2 separate regions of the Homo sapiens genome follow, and region 2 is linked to region 1. A link means that fine-mapping ties the variant in region 1 to the expression of a gene that starts in the linked region. Tissue or cell type: subcutaneous fat. Region 1 holds a variant in brackets; the other region holds the start of a gene. All regions are shown on one strand. Distances are between the middles of the regions. Region 1 has its middle 14 kb from the start of GOLGA6C. Region 2 holds the start of NEIL1 (nei like DNA glycosylase 1).

What was found. PIP is the estimated chance that this variant, and not a neighbour inherited with it, causes the effect. A credible set is the group of variants that fine-mapping cannot tell apart.
Region 2: NEIL1 starts here. The variant in region 1 is the best candidate, but not a certain one, in a credible set for the expression of NEIL1 in subcutaneous fat (GTEx, PIP 0.73).

Annotation. Positions count from the first base shown.
Region 1 is chr15:75,241,709-75,246,096 of GRCh38, forward strand. No RefSeq gene overlaps it. Among named protein-coding and RNA genes, the nearest start is that of GOLGA6C, 14 kb to the right of the region's middle. The variant C/T (reference allele first, on the strand shown) is at 1,975.
Region 2 is chr15:75,344,532-75,348,919 of GRCh38, forward strand. NEIL1 (nei like DNA glycosylase 1) reads left to right here and starts at 2,508. Exons shown (of 10, transcript NM_024608.4): 1 at 2,508-2,942; 2 at 4,353-4,388. The coding sequence starts at 4,375. RefSeq lists an enhancer at 2,260-2,309 and a silencer at 3,530-3,719.

The sequences.
Region 1 (4,388 bases):
GCCAGGCTGGTCTCGAACTCCTGACCTCAGGTGATCCACCCGCCTTGGCCTCCCAAAGTGCTGAGATTACAGGTGTGAGCCACCGCACCCGGCCTCAATCCCCAAAATTGAATTTAAAATTTTTGGATTGCTAGTGTATTCAGGTATGTGGAATGGGAAAACAGAATTGTCTCTGGAGGAAGACAACATTATCGTAAGCCTCAAAGCATTACAAACTGATTTTTAAAAAATGTTTGGCACACAACTAAGGTAGCTAGACTCAGTAGGACACAACACAACATGAACCAAGAACTATCAGAAAGAAGCAACGATAGAAACATGCTCGGAGATTCCAGATATTGGAATCAGACACAGGCTACAAAATAACTATACTTAATATGTTCAAGGAAGTAAAATATAAGATGCAAGAGTTTAGAAAACTACAAAAAAAATAGCACCACAGGTATTTAAAAAGTAAATTCTAAATTGAAAAGTACAATAGCATTAACTTGGGGCTCAGTGGCTCATGCCTATAATCCCAATACTTTGGGAGGCCGAGGCAGGGTTACTGCTTGAGGCCCAGGAATTTGAGACCAGCTGGTGGTCTGTGCCTATAGGTCTGGCTACTCAGGAGGGTGAGGCGGGAGAATCACCTAAGCCCAGAAGTTTGAGGTTACATTGAGCTATGATCGCACCACTACACTCCATCCTGGGTGGTAGAAGAAGGCTCTCTCTTAGAAAAAGAAAGAAAGACAAAATACAATAACTAAAATTAATAATTCCATTCATGGTTTCCAGAGCCAATTAGACACAGTTGAGAGAGAATTAATGAACTGGAAGATATTGAAAGTAATGGCTGGCCAGGCGCGGTGGCTCATGCCTGTAATCCCAGCACTTTGGGAGACAGAGGTGGGCAGATCACCTGAGGTCAGGAGTTCAAGACCAGCCTGGCCAACATGGTGAAACCCCATCTCTACTAAAAATACAAAAATTAGCCAGGAGTGGTGGCACAAGCCTGTAATCACAGCTACTCAGGAAGCTGAGGCAGGAGAATTGCTCGAACCCAGGAGGTGGAGGTTGCAGTGAGCTGAGATTGTGCCACCGCACTCCAGCCTGGGCGACAGAGTGAAACTCCATCTCAAAAAAATAAAATAAAATAAAATAAAATAAAATGGCAAAAACTGCAATTACTTTTTCACCAACCTAGTAATTCAGAAGAAAATATTCAGAATGAAACATGAAGGGACAAAAAAAATAAAACACACAGAAGAGAAAGTAAGTGATACAGAGGATACACTAGGGATCCTCTAGAGATATATTTTCATAATTTAAAAATATTTTGTCATTTAAAAAAAAAAATAGTGCTAAGATAACAGGCGTGAGCCATCACACCTGGCCCAAATATCTTTATTTTGCCTTTTTATCTGACAGATATTTTCGCTAAGAATGGAACTTGAGGCTGGCAGTTATTTTCTTTTGGTACGGTGAAGGTGTCATTCCATGGTCTTCTGGTTCCTGAGGTTTCTGTTGAGAAGTTGACTGTCAGCCTAATTATTGCTCCTTTGAAGGCAACCTGAATTTTTTCTCAGATACTTCTGGGGTTGCGGGGGGACAAAAAAGGGATCATACACTCCCAGAGTGCTGGATTACAGGGTCTCACTTTGTCACCCAGGCTGGAGTGTAGTGGTGCGATCTCAGCTCACTGCAGCCTGGATCTCCTGGGCTCAAGCAATGCTTCCACCTTAGCCCTTCAAGTAGCTGGGACTACAGGTGCACACCACCACATATTTGACTAGGCCAAATATACCTTTAATCAGCATCCCAGAAAAAAAGGAAAGAGGGGCCAGGCGCAGTGGCTCACAGAATCCCAGCACTTTGGGAGGCCAAAGCAGGCAGATCGCCTGAGCCCAGGAGTTCAATACTAGCCTGGGCAACATGGTGTAACCCCGACTCTACAAAAAATACGAAAATTAGCCAGGTGTGGTGGTGCACGCC[C/T]GTGGTCCCAGCTACTAGAGAGGCTGATCTGGGAGCATCTCTTGGGCCTGGGAGCTCTAGGCTGCAGTGAGCACTTCAGCCTGGGCAACAGAGCAAGACCCTGTCTCAAAATAAATAAATAAAGGGATAGAAAGAGATAATGAGGCAGAAGCAATATTTTAAAAAAATAATGACAGAGAATACTTTTTAAATTATGAAAAACAATAGTTCACAGATTTAAGAAGCCTCATGAACCCCAAGCAGGACAAATAAAAATAATAGTACACCTAGACACGTTATGGTAAAATTGCAGAAAGCCAAAGGCAAAAACTTTCTTTAATCTTAAAAGTATCCGAGCCAGTCATGTTGGCTCATGCCTGTAATGCCAGCACTTTGAGAGGCTGAGGTGGGTGGTTTGCTTGAGCTCAGGAGTTAAAGGCTGGCCTAGGCAACATGGTGAAACCCTGTCTCTACAAAAAATAGAAAAAATTAGTCAAGTGTGGTGGTGTATGCCTGGAGTCCCAGCTACTTGAAGTGCTGAGGTCGAAGGATTGCTTGAGACCAGGAGGTCTGGGCTGCAGTGAGCTGAGATTGCACCACTGCACTTCAGCCTGGGTGACAAAGTGAGACCCTGTAATCCAGCACTTTGGTAGTGCATGACCCCTTTTTTTGGTCCCCTACCAAAAAAGAGTATCTGAGAAAAAATTCAGATTGCCTTCAAAGGAGCAACAATTAGGCTGTCAGTCAACAGAAACCTCAGGAACCAGAAGACCATGGAATGACACCTTCACTGTACCAAAAGAAAATAACTGCCAGCCTCAAGTTCCATTCTTAGTGAAAATATCTGTCAGATAAGAAGACAAAATAAAGATATTTGGGCTAGGTGTGGTGGCTCATGCCTGTAATCCCAGCACTTTGGGAGGCTGAGGTGGGTGAATCACCTGATGTCAGGAGTTTGAGACCAGCCTGACCAATATGGTGAAACCCTATCTCTACTAAAAATACAAAAATTAGCCAGCCATGGTGGCATGTGGCTGTAGTCCCAGCTACTCGGGAGGCTGAGGCAGGAGAATCACTTGAACCTGGGAGGTGGAGGTTGCAGTGAGCTGAGATCATGCCACTGTACTCCAGCCTGGGTGACAGAGCGAGACTCCATCTCAAAAATAATAATAAAAATAAAATAAAAATTTTTTAAAAATTTTAAAAAGTAGCCCTAGAGAGTAGACTTTTAGGACAGGATCCTGGAACTCACTAATCAGGTGGCAACAGGATCCATTGTTGGTGGTAAGTGGGGTAGTGATGTGCTGGTGGGCTATAGCAATACCATCACTAGGAAACTCACCTACTGTGGATTGGGATATGGTACAGGTGGAAGGGCAGGCATTGCTGATGCAGTAGCGCTAGAACAAAGTTCTCCAAATCTGGTTCCTGGATCATCAGCAGCAGCACGGCTGCATGCTTGAGACCTGGCGCTGGAGACCGGCCTGGGCAACATAGGTAGACCCTGTCCACAAAATATTTAAAATTAGCTAGGTGTGGTGGCACATGCCTGTGGTTCCAGCTACTCAGGAGGCTGAGGTGGGAGGATTGCTTGAGCCCAGGAGGTTGAGGCTGCAGCAAGCCATGATCACACCACTCCACTCCAGCCGGGGTAACAGAGCAAGACCTCATGTCAAAAAAAAAAAAAACAAACAAACAAAAAAAAAAGAAGACAAAGAAAGGGCTGGGCACAGTGGCTCACACTTGTAACCCAACACTTCAGGAGGCCAGGGTGGGTGGACCTCTTGAGTTCAGGAGTTTGAGACCAGACTGGGCAACATGGCAAAACCCCATCTTTACCAAAAATACAAAAAATTAGCCAGGCATGGTGTTGCGCACCTGTGGTCCCAGCTATTCAAGAGGCTGAGGTGGGAAGGATTGCTTGAGCCTGGGAGGTGGAGGTTGCAGTCAGTTGAGAACATGCCACTGCACTCCAGCCTGGGTGACAGAGTGAGATCCCATCTCAAAATAAAGAAAAGAAAAGAAATGAAACAAAACGAAATGAAACAAAATGAAAAGAAAAGGGATCCTGATATCTGATATGGAGAAACTTAAGTGGATACATCTGAGAACTTTGAACCTCCAGTTTCCACTAAATGCTCTGGTCTAAAGGAAGTAGCCCCCTTTCCTTGCTAAGAGAAGGGCAGCTGCCCCTTGCCTGGAGACTAGGCAAAGAGCCTCCAACAAGGCCTTACAGCAGGATGAGGTGTGTCGTCATTGCTGCCCCACATTGACACCAGGCTATGGTCATTTCTCATCATGGCCCAAGGTCACAGGCACAATCTGCTCTGGGAGAATGATTTTTTTTTTTTTTTTTTTGCCAAAAATGCAGGAGCTGCCAAGTGCCTACTGGCAGAATCTAGGAGAGGAGGTGAAGAAGTGGACATAAGGGTGTT
Region 2 (4,388 bases), 100 kb after region 1:
GAGCCACTGTGTCCAGCCTAAGTATTTGTCCTTCTGTGACCAACTTATTTAGTGCAATGTCTTCGAGGTTACCCATGTTGTTGCATGTGGCAGTATTTCCTTTTTTTAAAGGCTGAATAATATTCCATCATATACCACATTTTTTTTAGGGGGGCAGGGATGGGGATAAGGTTTCACTCTGTCATCCAGGCTAGAGTGCAGCAGCATGATCACAGTTCACTGTAGCCTCTGACTCCCAGGCTCAAGCAGTCCTCCAACCACAGCCTCTGGAGTAGCTGGGACTACAGATGCATACCACTATGCTAATTCTTTTCTTATATAGAGATGGAATCTCCCTATGTTGACCAGGCTGGTCTTGAACTCGTGGGCTCAAGCAGTCCTCCTGTCTTGGCCTCCCAAAGGGCTGAGATTACATGCATGAGCCACCATGCCCAGCCTATTATATATCACATTTTAAAAAATCCATGTATCGGTTGGTTGTTTCCACATCTTGGGAATAATGCTTCAATGTGTGTTATCTCTTCATTGGGGTGGCAGTTACATGACTATGTGTTTGTCAAATATTGCAGTCTGAAAGGGGTAAATTTTACTATATGTAAATTATACCTTTATTTAAACAAGAGAACAACAAAGAAATTACTCCATAGATTATTTGGTGTTCACAAGGTATGAACCATATGTTTTCTAATGCAGAGGTCTGGCTGCCACAGCCCCTGTCTTGATCAGTTTCAGCTCCCAATAAAGTGGGACAATGAGATATTGGGTGCCTCCTGATATGATGCAATTCAAAGTACAGAGCAGTGGCCAGGCGTAGTGGCTTATCCCTGTAATCCCAGCACTTTGGGAGGCCGAGGCAGGCAGATCACCTGAGGTCAGGAGTTTGAGACCAGCCTGGCCAACATGGTGAAACCCCGTCTCTACTAAAAATACAAAAATCAGCTGGGAGTGGTGGCATATGCCTGTAGTCTCAGCTACTCAGGAGGCTGAGGCAAGAGAATCACTTGAACCTGGGAGGCAGAGGTTGCAGTGAGCCAAGATCGTGCCACTGCACTCCAGTCTGGGTGACAGAGCAAGACTCCATCTCAAATAAAACAAAACAAAACAAAAAACAACGAAGTACAGAGCAGCACCTAGGAAGTATCCCTGAATATTTATATAATCAAGCCTTTAGATCTAATTCCCAGCATGCAGGATGAACCACAGATAGAGGACCAATCTCTGTGACAATATCAGTGACACCCTGAGGATACATTCAGACAAATTGAGAATGTGATGCAGCATCTATCTCAAACAACAACTGGCTGAGACTCTTCAGAAAGGTATCATGAAGATAAAAGAAGGGGATGAAGTGGGTGGGAGAGGGAAGGTGGTTTCATCTAGATTTAAAATTATTAAAAAGATATAATCCAGCCAGGCGCGGTGGCTCACGCCTGTAATCCCAACACTTTGGGACCCCGAGGTCGGGGGATGGCTTGAGCCCAGGAGTTTGAGGCTGGCCCAGGCAACATAGTGAGACCACATCCTTACAAAACATGAATTAGCCAGGCGTGGTGGTGTGTGCCTGTAGTCCCAGCTACTTGGGAGGCTGAGGCTGAGGATCACTTGAGCCCGGGAGGTCGGAGGCTGCAATGACCCATGATTGTAGCCTGGGGGACAGAGTGAGACCCTGTCTATATGTGTATATATATATATATTTGGGACAATTGGGGAAATCTGGATGTGGACTAGCTATTAGATGATATTAAGAAGTTACTGTTGGCTGGGCATGGTGGCTCACTTCTGTAATCCCAGCACTTTGGGAGGCCGAGGCGGGCAGATTACTTGAGGTCAGGAGTTCAAGACCAGCCTGGCCAACAAGGCGAAACCTCATCTCTACTAAAAATATGAAAATTAGCCAGGCATGTGGCACACGCCTGTAATCCCAGTTACTCGGGAGGCTGAGGCAGGAGAATCACTTGAACCCGGGAAGTGGAGGCTGCAGTGAGCCGAGATTTCACCACCGCACTCCAGCCTGGGTGACACAGTGAGACCCTGTCTCAAAAAAAGAAGTTACTGTTAACTAATTTCTAATAACTTAGATATTATTAGATATTGTCAACTAATATCAAGTTGTTAATTCTATTCATTTATTATGGCAGAAGTATTTTAAAGTAAATTAGACAAATCATGACATTTCATACCCAATACTTTAACATGCATCTCTAAAAACCAATTTCTTACAAAGCCACATAATTTTATTACGCCTAATAAGGAGACGTAGCAGGGTAGTGTGAAGGAGGGGAAATCGTGGCGATGGGTTAGGTATACACTTAGAATGAAGTGCAGACTCCACACGGAGGCCCTCCCGAGGCCCAACCGGACCTGACCTGGGTTTGCTTCTCTGTCTTCACCTGCCAGCACTAACCCGCAGCTATACTCCAGCCACACAGGACTTCTTTGAGTTCTTTCAGTGACCAATCTCTTTCTCGCCTCAGGGCCTTTGTACTGGCGGTTCCTTCCGCCGGACACGTCGGGTTTCCTCGTTTTTGCGGACTGGCGCTTTCTGATTTCAGAGACTCTCCGCAACAGAACCATCTCAAGTGGGTCTACCTCCTCGCCTTTTTTTGTTGTTGTTGTTGCTTGGCTGCGCTTCTGACAGGGCAGGCCGTGATGATGTTTGTTTATGAGTTAGGTCTGACTGTTCGTTGGTGCTTAAGATCCCCACCGGGTCCCTAGGGCCTGTGCGTACCGCGCACCTGTGCACGTCCTGCGCGCAGCTGCAGGCGACTCCGCTCTGGCTCGTCGCTGCTGTTTCCTGCTGGGGGTGCCGACCCTGTCCCACGCTAGCTGGGTGACTTCCCCCAACCGCAGAGACAGCGGCGACCCGGGGCCTCAGACCTGCCCCCGCATCTCGCCGGCGCCAGGCAGTGGGAAGTCAGGTTCTTCCGCCACCTCCCAGCCAGGTAACTGCCCCGAAGCCTGCCCCAAAGCCTGGAACCCCCCAAGCTCGGGGACCCCACCCCGAAGAATCGCGACCGCTTCCCTGAGGGACTACACCTCCCAGCGGCTCCCAGCGCGCTCCCGGGCACCGCCCGTTCTGGCGTTAACCCTTTAGTGGCTGCAGTGGCGACGAGCGGAACGGAGTGCGGGTTCCCGGGGAGGGGGCGTGCAGGATCGGGTTGTGGGGGGTGCGCTGTAGGGCTAAGGAGAAGATGAGCTTTGGGGGGCCCTGAGGAGGAGGGGAGTCAGGATTAACCGAGGACAGGGTCGCAGCGGGGGCATGGGGAGGACGGGCCCGAGAGCGCCGCTCCTCCCCAAAACTAGGATTTGGAGCCTCACGTTCTCCCGCAAAACGAGCCCTGTGGGTGCCAGGCCAGGGGCGGCTCCCAGGTGTGGAGGGGGCAAGGTACGGGCGTCTGCCGTCGCTAAGTGCCCCCTTCCACTTAAGGCACACCTTCGCCTCCGATTCCGAACCGCCCGGGGACAGAGGCAAGTGGCAAAGCAGGGAGGGCGGAGGTGAGGAGTCGATACCCCCCACCCCAGGGACCAGGCGCTGCCGCGGGCCCTTTCCCTCCCCCAGGCCCGGGGCAGGAGCTCGGGGAGCCCTTCCTGGTGCCCGCCGTCCTCCTGCGGAGCCATGGGGAGCGGCTCCAGCGCATGGCGGCAGCCCGCCCGCCTCGTCCTGGCCCCTGCCCTGACCCGGGGGCGGCCGCGGGGATGTCCGGTCCGTGGGGCAGGCCCGGTTCTCGCTGCGGCCAAGCGGCCGATTCGGCCGCTCCCGCCGCTCCCCCGCGCCAGGCCGAGCTTCGCTCTTTCCCTCGGTGGTGAGCGGCCAGATCCAGGCGGGTCCTAAGTGTGGGGGGAGGGGGGCGCAGGGAGGGGCGGCCACGCGATCCTAAGACCCTTTCAGATGGTGGGAGAGCCTGGAGAAAGAGACAGCGTGTGCGGAGGGGGTGCTCCCTCAGATGGGGGGTCAGGAAGTCTCCCTCAAGTGTCTGGGACAGAGGGACAGCAGGGGCCAAGGCGGAGATGAGATCCGTGAGTGAGGGGAGCCGGGAAGAAGTAAGGCTGCAGCCGCGGCCCCGCAAGGATTGGGACTTTCGTCTAAACGCGGTGGAAGCCCATGGAAGGAAGCGGTTAGCAGCAAGGCAGAGTCCTGCTCCCTCTGCAGCCCCAGCTCCCAGCGCCCTGGGCTTTCCAGGCACCTGTCCGGGTAGGGGATTGAGGGCCGTGGCCAGGCCCGCACTTTCCTGCCAGCCGCAGCTGGCCACATGCCCATCTGACCCTCCGAGTTCTCCTCTAAAAATGGGGCTGACAGCCGCTACCTCACAAAGTCCACACCGGGCTCAACCCGCTGCCTTCCTCCCCAACAGGACTCTGCCACCCTCCCTCAGGATGCCTGAGGGCCC